2 separate regions of the Homo sapiens genome follow, and region 1 is linked to region 2. The links come from fine-mapping of genetic effects on gene expression. A gene starts in region 2. The other region holds a variant in brackets. All regions are shown on one strand. Distances are from middle to middle.

Region 1 (9,352 bases), 29 kb before region 2:
ACTAAAAATACAAAAAAATTATTTGGGCGTGGTGGCTGGCACCTGTAATCCCAGCTACCCGGGCGCCTGAGGCAGGAGAATCATTTGAACCCGGGAGGCGGAGGTTGCAATGAGCCAAGATCAGGCCATTGCACTCCAGCCTGGGCGACAGAGCGAGATTCAGTCTCAAAAAAAAAAAAAGGAAGAAAGGAAGGAAGGAAGGAAGAAGAGAGAAAGAGAGAGAGAGAAAGAAAAAGAAAGAAAGAAAGAAAAGAAAGAGAAAGAAAAGAAAAAGAGAAAGGGAAAGAAAGAAAAGGAAGGAAGGAAAGAAAGAAAAAGAAAGAAAGGAAAAAAGAGAGAGAAAGGGAAAGAAAAAGAAAAGGAAGGAAGGAAGGAAAATAAAGAAAAAAGAAAGAAGAAAGAAGAAAGAAGAAATCAGCTAGCTCAACAAGCTTTCTTAACGCTAAGTGAGAGAACTTAAGGGCACTGTCCAAGCTGAGGGGACAAGTGAACCCCAGAGCCTAGGATTAGTATCCAGTTCGGTCTAACGCAGAAGCCCACGCGCCATGCTGGCTCCCTACACTGGTGGCCACCATGAGAAGCTTCGGCCTCGTCCCCTTGGGTCTCCTCCCAGGCCTCTCCCTGCCCCAAGGAGGCGAACAGGGCTCTGCTTAACGACAGCTCTTGCTGGACCATCATCGGCACCGAGTCGGTGGAATTTTCCTTCAGCACCAGCCTGGCGTGTACCCTGGAGCCGGTCACTCCGGTGCCTCTCATCAGCACCCTAGAGGTGAAGCCGGGCGCTAGGGGCGTTGGGCAGGGGGACCCTGCCTGCACTGGGCAGTGGTGGTGCTAGTGAGTGGGGGGCAGCGGGTTCCCGCCCTACTTGGTTCTCTCACCTCACCTGGTCCCACCCTCCCCCAGCTGAGCGGCGGGGGCGACGTGGCCACGCTGGAGCTCCACGGAGAGAACTTCCACGCGGGGCTCAAGGTGTGGTTTGGGGACGTGGAGGCAGAAACCATGTACAGGTACGGGGTGGTGAGGCAGCCTCTCTTGGGCCCCGGGGAGCAGGGGAAGGGGGTGCACGCGTCGTCGGAGTCGCCGCAGCCCTCACCCTGGTGCTCCACCCCCAGGAGCCCGCGGTCCCTGGTGTGCGTGGTGCCGGACGTGGCGGCCTTCTGCAGCGACTGGCGCTGGCTGCGCGCTCCCATCACAATCCCCATGAGCCTGGTGCGCGCCGACGGGCTCTTCTACCCTAGTGCCTTCTCCTTCACCTACACCCCGGAATACAGCGTGCGGCCGGGTCACCCCGGCGTCCCCGAGCCCGCCACCGACGCCGACGCGCTCCTGGAGAGCATCCATCAGGAGTTCACGCGCACCAACTTCCACCTCTTCATCCAGACTTAGGCGCGCCCGGTAGCCCCGGCTGCCCACCCTGGAGGGCTGCGCCCGCGCCAGGCGCGGGGACGTGTTTCTGGGTTCTAGGCCCTGCTTCCTTGCCCCTTTGCTGCAGAAGGGCAGCTGAAGGCTCACCCTAGAAACCGGGCCTGGTGGGTCTTACCCGGCTCACTCCCTCCCTTGTCCTTACACATACAGGAAGACAAGACCTGAGTGGTGCTGTCTTTGTGTCCGTCGTGTATGGCTCTCCCTGTCTTCATTTCTTCTCACTCTGTCTCTAAACCTCTCTCTCTCTCCCTTCCCCCTCAGTACTTAGTCTACAGACCTATGTGCGTGTCCCTATCCTTCTGTCCTTTTCTCTCTTCAGCTCTCCCTGCCTCTCACACACAATTTTACATGCCCCGAGGAGCCAAGTTTGGGACATTTACCCTCCAGGCATCTGTGTCCCCTCTTGAAGAGAAAACACACAGCTTCACACATCCAGGCATAGGGGGCAAGCTCTTGGGGCATCAGGACCCTGGAGCACCAGGTCCTTCCTGGAATATTAGATCCACCTGGAGCACCGGGTCTCTCTAAGTCTCACCTGGGGAATTCGGTCCCACCTGGGGCACCAGTTCCCACCTAGAGCACTGTGTCCTGCCCTAGAGCACAAAGACCTGCTCCTCCCGAGACTCTCTCTGACTGCAGCCAGGCATAGTACCTTTGCCTGTGTTTGCTCCCTGGTCCACAGATTTGGTGGCTGGGCAGGTGCCTGGACAGTGATGAGGTCTTGCCGCCTTAACTGTCCCCCCCAGTCACTTCTCCCACAGGCCCAGCAGGACGCAGTCCTGAGGATCAGGGATTCTACAGCTGCATTAAAATCAATCCTATCCAAGGCAGAGTTTGGTCTGTATGAGCCACCTCCCCAAGTGTGCCTCCCCCAACCCTCGCACCAACACACAAAAGAGGGGACCTGCACAGAAAGAAAAGAACCACAAGTCTGATGGAGCAGAGAGCCTACCTTTTGGACGTTTTCTAGAGGAGGAACAGGGTGCAGAGGCAGCTGGCATCCTGAGTCCCTGTCCCTGCCCTGGGGTTGTTACCCTACTAGCTATCTCTCCATCCCAAGCAAGGGTGCACCCCAGGCCCAGAGGTGACCACGGGACCCTTTCAAAACAAAGCTTTCCCAGGATAGCCCTGGGCAGAACTCCTGGGATTGACTGGGCAGTAATGTAGTTGAGAGGGGGGCCTCTCTGCATGGGGCTGATGGACAGAATCACAATCTATTCCCCACCAGCCTACCCACCCTAGGTACCACTCTACCCAGTCTGTGCTTTATAGGGAAGGAAAAAAAAACCAGGCAGAACACTGGCTTGGGCTATTGGAATCAAGGACACAGATAAGTATCATGGGTGCCAGCTACCTGCACCAGCCTCTGGTGGTGCCTGATGGGAAAACTGGTCTGAAATGTGGGTTCTAGGTTCTAACCCTCTGGAGAAGAGCTTGCCCTCCTAAGGAAGAGCTCATTTCTTGTAAAACTCCTCCCCCAGGGTATGGAAAGTCCCATGAGAAAAAAGAAACGAACAATACGCAGAGGAGAGGAAATGGGGTATGTTCTTTAGCCTTCCCAAAGTCTTGACTAAGTTCTGCCATCTGCCATCAGCAGGCTGCAACCCACTGTGAGGGGTGAGGAAGAAGCCTGTGGCCCCTGAAGGTGAATCTTGGCTGAGGAAGGCAGCAAATGAGTTGAATGGGAAATGTCCCTGAAATGAGCGCCTGACTCACCGTCCATGGTGGTGTTGAAGCAGGCAGCCAGGAGGGAGGAGGCTGAGAAGAGTGTCATAGCGCACCACATGGGGAATTGGGGCTCAAGCGCTCATCGTCCAGCCCTGCCCCCAAAGTCTTCCTCCACCACTCCTCAAGGCAGGAGTCCCAGAAGCCAATAATCTAGGTTGGACCAAAAGCCCAGACCCAGCCATACAGCTCTGTCTTAGTCCTCACCCATCTCAGGGGATCCTATAACCTTTGGTGTCCCCAAGGTATCCATCTGGAAGTCTGTGACCAAAGCTCCAGCCCTGGCCTAGCTTCTGAGTTCCAGCTGCTGAAACTGTCCTTGGAGGTCTTCCTTGCACTGAGTCTGAAGCCATCTAACATCAAACTCCTTTCCCTCTCCACCTGCCTTGCAGCACCACCTCTAGCTCCTTCCCCCACACCACCCAGTCACCCAGGCCTAAGGATCCCACCCCCACTTCCACACTACCATATGCCTCCTGTTTTCCTCTCCCTCCACTACTGCCCTGCCAGGTCCTGTGTCGCCTCTTCCAAAATTTCCCAAACTACTCTAGGTAGAACTAGCTATATAATTTGTGGGCCCCAGTGCAAAATGGCCCGTTGTTCAAAAATTATTCAAGAATTTCAATTCGACTGAACACGGGATTAAAAAAAAAAAAAGAACTTCAAGACAGCCACAGGAAATGATGAAACCAAGTGCAGGGGCCTTCCAAGCACAGGCTGCACAACCACGAAGCCAGCCCTGGCCCCAGGCTTTTTTCTTGTATTCCCACAGACCCTCAATGGGACCATATCGACTGCCTGCTTTGGATCAAAGGTTTTACCTACATGCCCATTGTCTCCTCTAGGCTGCCATCTTCATGGGGAAAGGAGCTCTTATCTCTGCATGTCCTAAAGGGTGCATCACAATGCCTCGCATGTTGAGTTGGTGCTCAATAAACAGTGAATTGCATTATATGGCATTGGCAGATATTTAGATATTGCTAATGCAAAGTGAAACCGGCAGGTGGCACTGTTCTCCACCCGAGCATTAAGTTCTCATTTTATTTATATTTAAAAACCGGGCCTTAATCCCAGCCCTTTGGTAGGCCGAGGCGCAAGGATCACTTAAGCCCAGGAGTTCGAGACCACCCTGGGCAACATAACAAGACCCCCTCCCCCATCTCTACAAAAAAATGTAAAAATAGGGCCGGGCGCAGTGGCTCACGCCTGTAATCCCAGCACTTTGGGAGGCCGAGGCGGGCGGATCACGAGGTCAGGAGATAAGAGACCAACCTGGCTAACCCGGTGAAACCCCGTCTCTACCAAAAAATACAAAAAATTAGCCAGGCGTGGTGGCGGGCGACTGTAGTCCCAGCTACTTGGGAGGCTGAGGCAGGAGAATGGCGTGAACCCGGGAGGCGGAGCTTGCAGTGAGCCGAGATCGTGCCACTGCACTCCAGCCTGGGGGACAGAGTGAGACTCCGTCTCAAAAAAATAAAAAAATAATAATAATAATTAGCCGGTGTGGTGGTGCACGCCTGTAGTCCCAGCTATGGGGTGGGGGCGGGGGGATGCTGAGGAGGGAGGATCACTGGAGCACAGGTAGTGGAAGCTGCAGTGAGCTGTGATTGTGCCACTACACTCCAGCCTGGGTGACAGAGGGAGACCCTTTGGGGGTTTATGCACAGAATTCTACATACTTCCAGGGAATTTCCTAACACTAAAACCCATTTATGGATTAATTTAGTCCTCTTTATATTAGAATCATTTGCCACGCTATAAAAATTAATATACCGGGCCGGGCGCAGTGGCTCACGCCTGTAATCCCAGCACTTTGGGAGGTCGAGGTGGGTGGATCACCTGAGGTCAGGAGTTTGAGACCAGCCTGGCCAACATGGTGAAACCCTGTCTCTACTAAAAATTCAAAACATTAGCCAGGCGTGGTGGCGTGTGCCTGTAATCCCAGCTACTCAGGAGGCTGAGGCAGGAGAATTGCTTGAACCCAGGAGGCAGAGGCTGCAGCGA[A/G]CTGAGATCACGCCACTGCACTCCAGCCTAGGGTCTCTCCAGCAGAGTGAAACTCCGTCTCAAAAAAAAAAATAATACTAATAATATACCGGCCACGCCATGGAACAATTCTATTAACATCTCTGAGTGTGGAGCTCAGGCATCTGTATTGTTTGAAACCCTCCCATGTGAATCTAGTGAGCAGCCAGGGTTAAGAATCATGGCCCTAGTCAGTATTTCCTCCTCATTTTATAGATGGGGAAACTGAGGCTCCAAGAGAGGAGGCTAAGGTCACAGCAGATGGCAAAGCCTACAATTGATTCAAATCCTGCACTCCTACCACTAAATCTGGGGCTCTGAGTTTCTCTTCATTCTCATTCTACCACGCTGCTGTGTGTAGGTGACATGTGTGTTGCAGAGGGTGGGGATGGGGCATGTAGTGAGGATAAGGCCCAAATCTCCAATTTACCAGCTCTCATGCTGCCTGGTGTTCCACCATTATTAACAAGCTAGTTCCCCAGTAAGTACCGACCTTGGGGTTTCTCTCTCTTTCTTTCTTTCTTTTTTTTTTTTAACTTCTATTAAGTTATAACCACAGCATAGGTAAAATTCTCTGACAGCTTCCCCCTGGGTAGGGCACAGACCTGTGAAGATGGCAAGGGAAAGAGGAAGTGGTTTTAAGGGAAGTGAAACCCATAATACATCTATAAGGTTGTGGCCAGGCATGGTGGCTCACACTTGTAATCCTAGCACTTTGGGAGGCCGAGCCAGGCAGATCACTTCAGATCACTTGAGGTCAGGAGTTCCAGACCAGCCTGGCCAACATGGTAAAACCCCGTCTCTACTAAAAATACAAAAATAGGCTGGGCACGGTGGCTCACACCTGTAATCCCAGCTACTTGGGAGACTGGGACAGAAGAATCGCTTGAACCCAGGAGGCGAAAGTTGCAGTGAGCTGAGATCACGCCACTGCACTCCAGCTTGGGTGACAACAAGACTCTGTCTCAAAAAATAAAAAATACAAAATGTAGCCAGACGTGGTGGCGTGCACCTGTAGTCCCAGCTACTTGGGTGGCTGAGGCACAAGAATCGCTTGCACCTAGGAGGCAGAGGTTGCAGTGAGCCGAGATTGTGCCACTGCACTCCAGCCTGGGCAACAGAGCGAGACTGTCTAAAAAAAGAAAAACAAACAAACAAAACCATCTATAAGGTTTTGCCACAGACCAGCTCAGAACAGCCTCCTAGACAGGCTTGGCCCTGTTCCAGACCCTAAGGGACAAAGGCAGGCAGGGTAGCAGTGGCACAATAATGCATTTAGAGGGCAAAGTGATAAACCCCCACTACAGCTGGCTGCTTGCCACCAGATGGGCACTTTCACCTTTGCTATCTAATGTAAACTAATCATAAACCTTGTGGCATCCCATCATATTTACAGGTCCTCAAGGAGAGAGAATTATACAGGTTGTATATATAGGGCAGAAATCTTGCAGGCCATCTTAGAATTCTGTCTACTCCCCAAACAACATAGCAAATCATAAGTAGGGGAGATGTGTTTCACTTGTAGGCCTTCCCACACCCCATGCAGGCATTGTCCCATGGTTTTGCTACCTCTGAAGATTGGCAAGATCATGAACAAAAAGTGGGCCCATGCCTGGCTTCTGTAATGTAGTGGTTATCACATTCGCCTCACACATGAAAGGTCACCAGTTTGAGACCGGGCCAAAACACGAGATTTTCCCCCTAAATTTAGTGAGTTTAATCGAGGTTGGAAACAAACAGAAAACTAGTTAAACCTGTGCCTACATTTTGGCCGGGTGTGGTGGCTCATGCCTGTAATCCCAACACTTTGGGAGGCCGAGGTGGGCGGATCGCATGAGATCAGGAGTTTGAGACCAGCCTGGACAACATGGTGAAACCCTGTCTCTACTAAAAATACAAAAATTAGCCAGGCATTGTGGCACATGCCTGTAATCTCAGCTACTTGGGAGGCTGAGGCAGGAGAATCACTTGAACCTGGGAGGCAGAGATAGCAGTGAGCTGAGATCATACCATGGCACTCCAGCCTGGGCGACAGAGTGAGACTCCACCTCAAAAAATTAAAAAACAAAAAGTGGACCAATAGTGTCCAAAATCCATTTTGCATCCACTGCCCAATTCTCAGAAATATTATATATTATCAGAAATAACCAGAGTTGGCTCTCCAGACAGATAAAGCCCTAGTCGAGGTTGACCACTGATGGGGCTATGTCTGCCAGCATTTAGGATGGCTTCCAATGAGTCTTGTATCCAGGTGCTCCTGCCCCTGGGTGGTCTCCTGTCACAATGAATAGGGCTGACCCATGTGACCCATGCAATATTATGGAAGAGATAGTGGGTGACTTCCAAGCTAAGTCATAAAAGTCACTGTAGCTTCCACTTGGTGGCTCTCTTGGATCGCTTGTTCTGAGAGAAACCAGCTGCCGCATCACGAGGACTGTCAATCAGCTCTATGTGGGTCCACGCAATGAGGAACTGAGGCCTCCTGCCAAAATAGCCAGCACCAAGTTGTCAGAAATGTAACTGAGCCATCTTGGAAGTGGATCCTCCAGCCCAGTCAAGCTTTCAGATGACAGCAAGACCTGGCCAACGTCGACTGCAACCTCACAAGATGGAGCCAGAATCGCCCAGCTAATGCTCCTGACTTCTGACTCACAGAAACAATGTGAGATAATATTTATGTTGTTATAAGCCCCTAAGTTTGGGGGTAATTTTAAATATCAATAGATAATATGGGGGTCTTCTTTTTTTTTTTTTCTTTTTGAGATGGAGTCTCGCTCTGTCGCCCAGGTTGGAGTGCAGTGGCACGATCTCGGCTCACTGCAAGCTCCGCCTCCCCGCTTCACGCCATTCTCCTGCCTCAGCCTCCCGAGTAGCTGGGACTACAGACACCCGCCGCCACGCCCGGCTAATTTTTTTTGTACTTTTAGTAGAGATGGAGTTTCACCGTGTTAGCCAGGATCGTCTCAATCTCCTGGGGGGGTCTTCTTAAACTAATACTTTACCCAAAAAGATGGCACTGATGATGAGAACACCATATATTGAGCACTTATTGTGTGCTAAGCTCTGACTTGCCTCCCTATAGGCTGTTGGATCACAAGGTAACAGCTGGTAAAAGCTGAAACCCAAACCCAGAGGTCCTGACTCAGTCTCACACCATCCAAAGCAGCCCTAACAGGAATTTCTACAACTGGAAATGTTCTGTGTCTGCACCACCTGATACAGTAGCCACTAGCCACATGTGGCTGTTGAGCACTTAAAACAAGGCTAGTGCAACTAAGAAGCAGAATTTTTATTTTTACAATTATAATTAATTTAAATTTATAATATAGCCACAGTTCCCAGTGGCTACCATAGTGGTCAGCACAGATCTAACAGATGTGAGGGCCTTCTACAAGACACAAGTTAGGAGAACAGAGACCCACTCAACCTCATGGGACTCAGAAAAACAGTGTGGCAAAGTCTCAGGAGAGATTTAAGCTGCCACGAGATTTAAGACCAGAATCACTGGTTCAGAGGGGGTTTGCAGGGGCATGAACAGCCCCCAGTGAGGGAGCCTTGGGTGATATAAACCCCTTGATAGGCAGTGCAGTTGTTAGCACTCTAGAGCCCGACTGCCGGGGTTCAAATCTCACCTCTACAACTGGTAAGCTGTGTAGCTTTGAGCAAGGTATTTAACCTCTTAGATGCAGTTTCCCTATCTGTCAAATGGGGTTACTAATAGCACCTACTCTGTGGAGATCTGACAATTAAATGGGATCTGGTATAAAGCCCTAAGAATGGGTTCCTGGCCACATGGTGTGTATGGGAGGGTTTGCTCCAACTACCACCAATTCCTGTTTGCGTCCTTTCCCCAACCCCAGCAAAGTACTGGGCAACATGGTGCCAAAGGAAGATCACCAATGTCCAAGGACCTGAAATTAAGGTTCGACTCTCCAGACACACTAGGGGCAGGTTGCCCTCTTGGTAACAAGGATCTTACCCACCTCACAGGGTTGTTATAGTGGTCAAGAAAGATGGCCCATGCTATTTCCGGAGACTGCCAGCCAGCCTGGCTGCAGCAGTGGCCTGAGTGAAGCAGGCGGAGACAGTGGTGCGGAGAGCCCACATCTAGATGGGTGCCTGCCGCTCAGCAGCTCTCTTGTTGCCATGCAGGCTGACAGTTGCCAATTTTTTTTATTTC
Region 2 (9,352 bases):
CCAGACACCTTGCCCTATCAGAAGGACCTGGTTCTGACCTTAGGAAGCCACTGCATTGTTCCGAGCATCAATTTCCTGTAAAAATAGAGAAAATGGTACCTCGCAGTACTGGGAGATACTCATACTAGCAATAAATAACAGTAATGAACCATTTAGAATAAAGTTACATGCACGAATTTATTCATTCATACAAGCATTTCCTGAGTACAAACTAGGGGACAGGTATTTCACAAAAACAAATAGAGCAGAGTTCCTGCCCTCAGTGTGCGGGGGGAGAGAGGGAGGGATTCAGCATTTGGTGGAGTATGTTAATTCCCTCAAGTTAATTCCTTCAAGAGAGAGACCTCTTTTGAATAGTAGGTACTTAAGTTATTAATCAAATTGAGAGATGGAAAGGACTCTGGAGGCTACCCTGTTCAAACCTTTCATTTTAAGGTGGGGGATGTCAGCCCAGCGGGGAAAGAGGCCTCCCCCCAACCTCATGGAACCCTCCAAATCATGGCCCAAATATTTTCGTGGGTGTTTGATAACTCCCTGGGCTCAAGAAGTCCCAAGAGCTCTCACTGTTCACTCAAGGGTCCTAGAAGCCCCTAGGCTTCCGCCCCCACCCCTACTCCCATGTAATCAAGAAGAGGACGCTGTAGAAGACCAGAAATGTCCTTAAGCTAAAGTACACTTGATAGGTGATAGGTGGGGGACACTTCCCCACAACCGCCTGGGCCCGGGGCCAAGTCAGTAGGCTGTGCCCCTGGGTAGGAACACCTTTGGGTGGAGGGGACTCCCAAAACAAGGCTGCCTTTAATTGGCCTGAGAGGGAGTGGCAGGAAGGCAGATCAGGGAATGCTCCCAGCTGGACAGGAAGAACTGGTTTAGTATAGCAAGCCCAGCCAAACAGAGGAGAGGACAGCTGGGTACTGAGCCTGGGTTCCCTTCCAAAATATGGGGGTGGTAAGGGGAATGATGGAACAGTCGGGGGAACACCACCCACAATGGGAGGGCTACTAGTCAGAGATCCTGGGGTCCTGGATGCCCTCTACTAACCCAAAGTAGTACCATTTTACCTCTCACATTTGGGAAGTGGGCATAATAGAATCCCCATGTGACAGGTCTTTTTGTGAGGACAAAATGCACCAGATCTGTCATATAAAAAGTACTCTATCACTCCTAACTGCTATTAGCAAAGTCCTTCTCCCTGGGCCTCACTTTTCTCTACCTGCAAAAAGAAAAGGACACGCTGGATCATCTCTTCAGTCCGAGCCAACCGTGACTATGTCTGATTTTTCCAACCACAATCTAGAAAAGAGGGAGGGGACAGGCCAAAGGGGAAGCCCTGTGCCCCAGTTACAGGCAGGAGGTCTGTGACATTAGCCAGGAAGGGGAGAGCTGAGGTCAGGATGAGACTTGACACCTATCTCAGGAAGCAGCTGCCCAGGGCTGATGTCTCCTGCAGCTGATGGGTCACCCAGGCAGGACTGACACAGTCCCCTTCCCCCAAACTACATCCTTCAGAATGCCCCCAGGACACAGCTGACTGCTCAGCACCCTGAAGCACCTGAAGGCTCAGCAGCCCCTGGGAGGAAACTGGCATGTGACTGGGCACACGGTGACCTCAGCAACCTCCTGGGTCCTTTCCTCTTTTTCCCTGTACTGCCTAGGTGGTATCCCTTCGGATGCTTCCCCAGTTGCTTGACCCGACACATCCTTCAGGGCCTAGTTTAGAGCACTGTGCTAGAGGCAGAAGGCTTGGGTCCTCAGCCACTAACATTTTAGGCAAGGTAGCCTTTGGTTTAGGTTAAGTCATCACCTCACTCTGGCCTTGTTTCCTTCCACCTCAGAATTCCTTTGCCTTCCAGCCTAAAATCTCAACCTATTCTAAACCCGTCTTTAGTTACCAACGATGGGACACCTGGAGTAGCACAAAGAGTAGAAGTTAAGCTAAAGCAGAAACTTGAAAGCCTGGCTGCCTAAATTTCAATCTGACTCACCCATTTATTGTGTATTAACTGTGTGACCCTGGGCAAGTTACTTAACCTCTCTAGCCTCAGGACCAGTTTAAGAACAGTACACAGTAAGATTGTTGTTGGAATTAAGCTCCTGGATATACCCATTAGAAAGTTATTAGAGCAATGTCTGGCCCCCCGACAAAGGCGCTCCACGTTTGCAATCATCATGGCATGCCTGGAATTGTGCTGGAAGTATTGCCTAGGGTCTCATTCATTCCTCAAGAAGAGCCTGCAGGCAGAATCAACCTTCCGCTAAGTAAATTCAGAGGAACAGGAGCCCCAAGGCTTTCAAAGAAATTAACATTAATGGTTAAACTGCAAGGACTCACTCGCTCTGAAAACTGGGGCTAAAGGGCACAAAGGGGGCACAAAGCTCAGGCTGTGGGGGACAGATTGCCTTCACCAGTAATTCCCATGCCCCCCAACTTCCCAGATGAGATTGCCCCCCTCCTCCTAAGCCGGCTGCGGGCATGGATAGAGCTTCTGCTGGCCCAGGGACAGCTATGACGGAGGCCAGTGGACAGTGAGAAGGAAAGGTTTCCCTGGGCTGATTGAGGCCTTCTCTCCCCCCTACCCCCTTCACCTCACTCAAGGTGGATGCTTCAATTTTCTTATCTGCAATTGAGAAAAAATGAACACACTTCTTGCAGAAAGCAGAGGCTCAGCTCCTGGCTAAGTGTTGAGTCTAAACCATTCCTCTCCTCTGTCCTCGAAAAGAGCAGAGTCCCCAACTTTCTAGAAACCCTAACGCAGTGTCCCCTCTTGCCCCATTCCCTCAGACCCTTGGTGCAGTATTGGGAAGAGATTCAGAAGGGCAGGACTTTGCCCTAAGTCACAAGTCAATGACAGAGCTGGGGCCAGAACTGAGGTTAGGGCTCAGTTCTCCTTGGTGTGTGAAAGAGGGCCTCGCACAACCCTAAAACCCTCCCCCTTCCGAGTACACGCAGCCCCCCGACCCCCAGGGCCATCTCGGATCCTAAAGCTGTCTGCTCTGGGCGCCCCGAGAGCGAGGAGGGGATTCAGCGCTCCAAGCCTGCCCCAGGGTCACCAGGGAAGGGACGAGGGTGTGGGAGTTGAAGAGTTGACACCGGCTTAGTCACTAACGAGCCCGTAGCCCGCGGCGGGGCTGAGGCCCGGGGAGGCGGGAAGAGCAACAGGCGAGGGGCGCACGGCGCGTGAAGCCATCCCGGAGGCTGGCCCGTGACCCCGGAGCAAAGTTTCCAACAAAGTTTCCCGGGCCTCGGTGTCCGGTTGGGGGTAGCGTACCCCCGATCTGCCCCCCCCCATCCCACGCTCCGACGAACAAAGGAGGCACCGGCCTGCGCCCCCGCTTCGCCCCCAGCCCGGGAACCTCCAAGCACCCACCGACTCGGCGACTCCGCCTACGAAGAACAGCAGCAGCGCGAACAGACGGGCGGGGGCCATGGCACCGCGGACTGGAGAAGGCGCGCAGGCTGCGGCGAGTGGCCCCGGGCGGGCGCGCCACCCATCTTATAGGCGGCCTACCGGCCCCGCCCCGGCCCGCCCCCGCCCCGCCGCCCGCACCCCGCCCGGAATTCCCCAGTGGAAGCGAGGCCTGCGGGGCACTGCGCCCGCCCGCGGAGTTGGAAACCCCAAGGGACCCGCCCTGCCCGAGCCCGCCGGCTCCTACTCAACCCCTAGTCCTACCCTCCGGGAGCTCCAACTCCCTTTATTTATTTGACCCACTGCCAGGCAGGTCCCCAGAGATCACTGCGGCTAACCCCATTTTATAGTTGGGGAAACTAAGGCCCAGGGACGGGAAGGACTTCCCTAGGGTGTTGAGTTTAGACCAGCCTTCATACCGGGTGTGCTCCCCTCTGAAGACACAGAACTTCCCAAATGGGATGTGAACCGTGTTAAGACAGGGGACAGCAAACTATTCTGTAAAGGGCTAAATATTTTAGGTTTTGCGGGCCATACGATCCCTGTGGCAACTATTCAAACTCGAGCGTCGTAGCTCAAAAGCAGCCATAAATACTAAAGGAATGAGGGCAGCTAGGTCCTAATAAAACATTATTTATAGACACCGACATTTGAATTTAATATAATTTTCATGTGTCACGAAATATTATTATTCTTTTGACTTTATTCCCAACCATTTAAACATGCAAAAATCGGCTGGGCTCTATGGCTCACGCCTGTAATCCCAGCACTTTGGGAGGCCGAGGAATAGGAGGATCCCTTGAGCCCAGGAATTGGAGACCAGCCTGGGCAACCATAATGAGACCCCCATCTCTACAAAAAGTTTTTAAAGAAATTAACCAGGCATTGTGGTGCACCCCTGTGGCCCAGCTACTCTGGAGGCTGAGGTGGGAGGACTGCTTGAGCCAGAGAGGTGAAAGTTGCAGTGAGCCATGATCGCTCACTGCACTCCAGCCTGGGTGACCGAGTGAGACCCTGTCTCAAAAATAAATAAATAAATAAATAAATAAATAAATAAATAAATAAATGACATTTTATAATAAAAATGCAGGCCGGATGCAGTGAGTCATGCCTGTAATCCCAGCACTTTGGGAGGCTGAGGCGGCGGATCACTTGAGCTCAGGAGTTTGAGACCAGCCTGGCCAACATGCTGAAACCCCGTCTCTACAAAATACAAAAATTATCCAGGCATGGTTGCCTGCGCCTGTAATCCCAACTGCTCTGGAGGCTGAGGCAGGAGAATCGTTTGAACCCGAGGGGCGGAGGTTGCAGTGAACTGAGATCTCCCCACTGCACTCCAGCCTGGGCAACAGAGCAAAACTCCGTCTCAAAAAAATAAAAAATAAAAATGCAAAAACCATTCTTAGCAGTGGGCTGAACAAAAATAGGCGGTGGGCCTCAGCCACTCTGAGACCACTCTGACGCTGGTCTCAGAGTGGCTGACGTCTGTTCTAAGGGCTTCATCTACCAGATTTTGAACTTTTTCAAAAGTTTGATCTCTCTGAGAACTGGTCTGCAAGTTTATTTCCATTCTTAGGGTAAGCTTCCACCCTTTATAAGAGAAAGTTGTGTGTCCTCCTTACCCTTCATCCTCCTAACAGTGCATTGGTGGGAGCAGGTTGAGGGAAGAAGTGGAGGGGGGTGCTATATGGAGACTGTAAAATTCTCTGGGTCCCCAAGCACACGTACTGTTGGAATTATTGCAGGGTGTGAAGGTGGGCATTCTACGATGATCGAAGTACAAAAGAAGCCTAACCCTGTCTCTCCCTGACTTATGTATAAATCTTTCTAAGGGTGTAACATAGCCTTAGAAGTAGGACATTTTGGCCACTGTTGGCATATTATGAATTCATATACTTTGTGGAGTGGAGAATTGGTAGTGACTTCCCTTTTTCCACCTCTTAATTATTATCAAAGAATAAAAGTCTCTTGTGGCAGAGAACCTTGGCAGTAAAGCAAACTTCAAATGCTGACCACGGGGTTTCCACAGATTTAAAGGTAAGCAATGACTTTCAGTGGTTTTTAACATGCTTCCCTAGGATTTGGAACAAAACTGAGAAAATGAAGAAATCTCATGCCAGAATAAGAAATCCTTTTGCAAGTTAAATGGTTTGCAATCTTTGCTTTCCACAAAATTGCAGGGGGGCCTAATCTAGTTGTCAGTAGATAGATCATTAAATATAGAATAGGTAACTGTGATTTTAGTTATCTATTGTCACACTGTTGTAACAAGAGTTCTTCTGTTCCTACCAACTTTTATAAGTTTCTCAGCACTTACAGCCAGTGGTGTGCCAGTAAATGTTTGACAATTGGCTAGGGGAAGTGGCGAGTGCTAATTTGCCAATTTCTGTAGTGTAAATACTACCAGCATGGCTGATTTCAAGCTACCAATGAGATGTCACTGAACATGGAGCTGGGAAGATATATTTCTACCACACAGATACAATAGGTGCAAATAATCTCAAAAGCATGGATAACAGTAAAGTGTAGTGAGATAATTAGTAAGTGATGAGTTTTGAGTATTTATTTCCTTTATGGTTTTGTTTTTGTTTTTGTTTTTTTGAGACGGAGTCTCAATTTGTCACCCAGGCTGGAGTGCGGTGACGCAATCTCGGCTCACTGCAACCTCCGCCTCCCAAGTTCAAGCGATTCTCCTCAGCCTCCAGAGTAGCTGGGACTACAGGCACACACCACCATGCCCGGCTAATTTTTGTATTTTCAGTAGAGACAGGGTTTCACCATGTTGGCCAGGATGGTCTCGATATCCTGACCTCGTGATCTACCCGCCTCAGCCTCTCAAAGTGCTGGGATTACAGGTGTGAGCAACTGTACCCGGCCTCCTTTTTTTTTAATATAATTGTATGTTCATATAAATTAATTTTTAGTAATAGTTATGTTTAACAACTGGCTAATGACATAAAAAAAAAAGCAACAAAAAAAAAACAGGATCTCTCTCTGTAGCCCAGGCTGGAGTGCAGTGGCAAAATTATGGCTGATTGCAGCCTCAACCTCCCAGGCTCACGAGATCCTCCCACCTCAGCCTCCTGAGTAGTTGGGACTAGACATACGCCACCACGCACAGCTAATTATTATTATTATTGTTATTGTTATTATTATTATTATTATTATTATTTTGGTAGAGACACAGTCTTACTATGTTGCCCAGGCTGGGTTTGAAGGCCTGGGCTCAAGCAGTCCTCTCAACTTAGCTTCCCAAAGTGCTGGGATTACATGGCACCCAGCCACAAAATTTCTAAAAATTGACTTTCATGAACCACTACAAGATGGCTTTACCACACCATGGTTTGACAGCTATAAAAAATGAAAAATAGGAATAAAATTATTGCTAAAACCTGTTTCATTCTAGCAATATTCGTTGAGGTGTTTGTTTGTTTGTTTGTTTTTGACAAAGTCTCACTCCATCACCCAGGCTGGAGTGCAGTGGCACAACCTCTGCTCACTGCAACCTTAGCCTCCTGAGTTCAAGTGATTCTTGTGCCTCAGCCTCCCAAGTAGCTGGAATTACAGGTGCACATCACCATGCCTAGCTAATTTTAGTATTTTTAGTAGAGATGGGGTTTCGCCACATTGGCCAGGCTTGTCTCAAACTCCTGACTTCAAGTGACCCGCGTGCCTCGGCCTTCCAAAGTGCTGGTATTACAGGCATGAGCGACTATACCCAATCTCATGGAGGTTTTAGTGAGCTAATTGGAGAGAAAAATTGCCACAGCCACCTAATTAAGACAGGTATTTCTAAAACAACTTTACTTTTTCTACTTAATAATTATTTATCAAAGTTTGTAGGACTGGTTTAGAGAGTGATGTGATTTGGATGTTTGTCCCCTCCAAATCTCATGTTGAAATGTGATTCCTAATGTTGGAGGTGGGGCCTGGAGGTGACTGGATCCTGGGGCAGATCCCTCATGAATAGTTTAGCATTATCCACTTGGTGATAAATGAATTCTCACTCTCAGTTCACGCTGGATCTGGTTGTTTAAGAGTCTGGGAACTCCACCTTCCCTGTCTCTTGGTCCTGATGATGCCATGTGAGATGTCTGCTACCCCATTACCTTCCGCCATGATTGGAAGTTTCCTGAGCCCCTCGCCAGAAGCAAATGCTGGAGCCATGCTTGTATAGCCTGCAGAACTGTAAGCCAATTAAACCTCTTTTCTTTATAAATTACCCAATCTCATATATTTATAGTAACGCAAACAGCCTAACACAGCAAGCATATATTTATGTCAATTGTATACTTTAAATATGTATAGCTTATTTTATGCCAGTTGTACCTTAATGAAGCTGTTTAAATTATTGCAGGACTTTTTAAAAGAGTCATCAGTAAGCCTCTGACGCATTAAAAAAAAACACATTATGATAAAATTTTGTGGTGGAACATGGAGTAGAAATTTGACTTCAAATAGAAAAAGAAATGATGCAAAATGTCTGACTCTTAGAAAAGAGCTTGTTCATGTATTTTTTAAATGGATGATTGTAGGTATCGAATTGCTAGGGCATTTAATTTAACTGGATACATTTAAAAGAGTGATGTAATTGTTTTACTTTTACGTGTATAAATTTACAATATGCCAGAAATTACAACCTTTGCAACTATTTAAACTTTTGATGAAAAATGTTAAGCTATCAACTAAAAATTATGTCAAGGAGTACCTAGTCTTAAAATAATCATTTACAGAGTACACTAGCAAAAAAACAAAAACAAAAACTGAAAACAGCTCGTTTAGAGAGTTAATGGAAGTTCTTCTATAAAACTATCTTAACCTCCTGGAATTAAGGAAATAATTTCCCCTTCCCCAAGTTCTGAGAATCTCTAAAGGGATGCAACATGTTTGAATATAATTATTTGTGGATGTATGGGTCTTTAACCTGGGCTCCATGACTGGGGGCAGAGGACACATGCATGGTCAGTACTCCTCTAGGTTATGTGTCTCTGCATACATTATTTTGGGGCAAGAAACTTCAGATTCTTTCTTTATATCCACAAAAAGAGGATGTTTGGGGGATCCTCCTTTTGGGTGATCCTGACCCCCAAAGAGTTAAAAATAATTTGTCCAAAACCTGAGATTCTTTGAGAAGTTTTATTGGGTTCTTCTTTGGCCTCCAAAAAACAAAATGCAGTAGTCAAAGGTTTGTAATACTGAATAGGAGTTCCTAATTTCCTGCATGGGGCTGAGGTACAAAAACCCAAACAACCAAACAAAACCCACAGTGTTTACAGCCAGAAGTTCTTCATTAAAATCCTGTTTCCAGGACTTGCCAACTGGAGGAAAGTTTGTGAGTCCCTTTGCTCCTCCCTACAATGGAGATAATTCCCTCTTGAACTAATTAGGAGAATGGAATAAGGTGAAGTGGTGAACACATAACATATACTCACCTATGTTGGGTCCAGCACTCTTTCTGTATATTCTAACCTGAGATTGAGTGAGTCTGAGAGATGGCATTGGTCAAACACTTTACATCCTCCCCCTAGCTTCCTTTCAAGCAAAAGGAAATGATCTAGGACATCAACAGGCAGCCCCCTCCCATGGAGCTAAAAAATGAGCTCAGACCCAGCCTATAGCAGAGGTGGTGTCCCTCCCCCTTTTCTCAGACTTCCTAGGCCGGAGTTAACCAAGGCTAGGTGCACACCTGGTACATCCAGAGACACCTTAAATGCTACCTTCTCCTGGAATCCTCCATCCTCTTCTTTTAATTCTCATTTCTTCCTGCCTTGAGGTTTCTAGGACTCTATCTGTCCCACTCTTTGGGCAGGCATCCCTTTCTCACTCATGTTAGTTTTAGGTGAAGAGCACAGTCTTCAAAGTTAAAGAGACCTAGATTGCAATCTTGGTGGTATGGAGCAAGACACTTTTTCTCTCTGTGCCTCAGTTTTCTCATGTGTCCCCCC

Alleles and levels. Positions count from the first base shown, and alleles are read on the strand shown. Sizes are in standard deviations (SD) of each study's normalised expression.
As copies of G replace A in region 1, the expression in esophagus mucosa of the gene that starts at base 3,468 in region 2 goes up (small effect, 0.19 SD a copy in GTEx).

Evidence for each region.
Region 1: its variant is fine-mapped to the expression of SDC4 in esophagus mucosa (GTEx, PIP above 0.99).

The regions. Positions count from the first base shown.
Region 1 is chr20:45,315,574-45,324,925 of GRCh38, forward strand. RBPJL (recombination signal binding protein for immunoglobulin kappa J region like) reads left to right here. Exons shown (of 12, transcript NM_014276.4): 10 at 614-769; 11 at 904-1,007; 12 at 1,113-2,251. The coding sequence ends at 1,386. It also overlaps the pseudogene TRV-CAC14-1. Among named protein-coding and RNA genes, the nearest start is that of MATN4, 12 kb to the left of the region's middle. RefSeq lists an enhancer at 5,708-5,757. The variant A/G (reference allele first, on the strand shown) is at 5,155.
Region 2 is chr20:45,344,957-45,354,308 of GRCh38, forward strand. It overlaps SDC4 (syndecan 4), which reads right to left and starts at 3,468. Exons shown (of 5, transcript NM_002999.4): 1 at 3,369-3,468. The coding sequence starts at 3,428.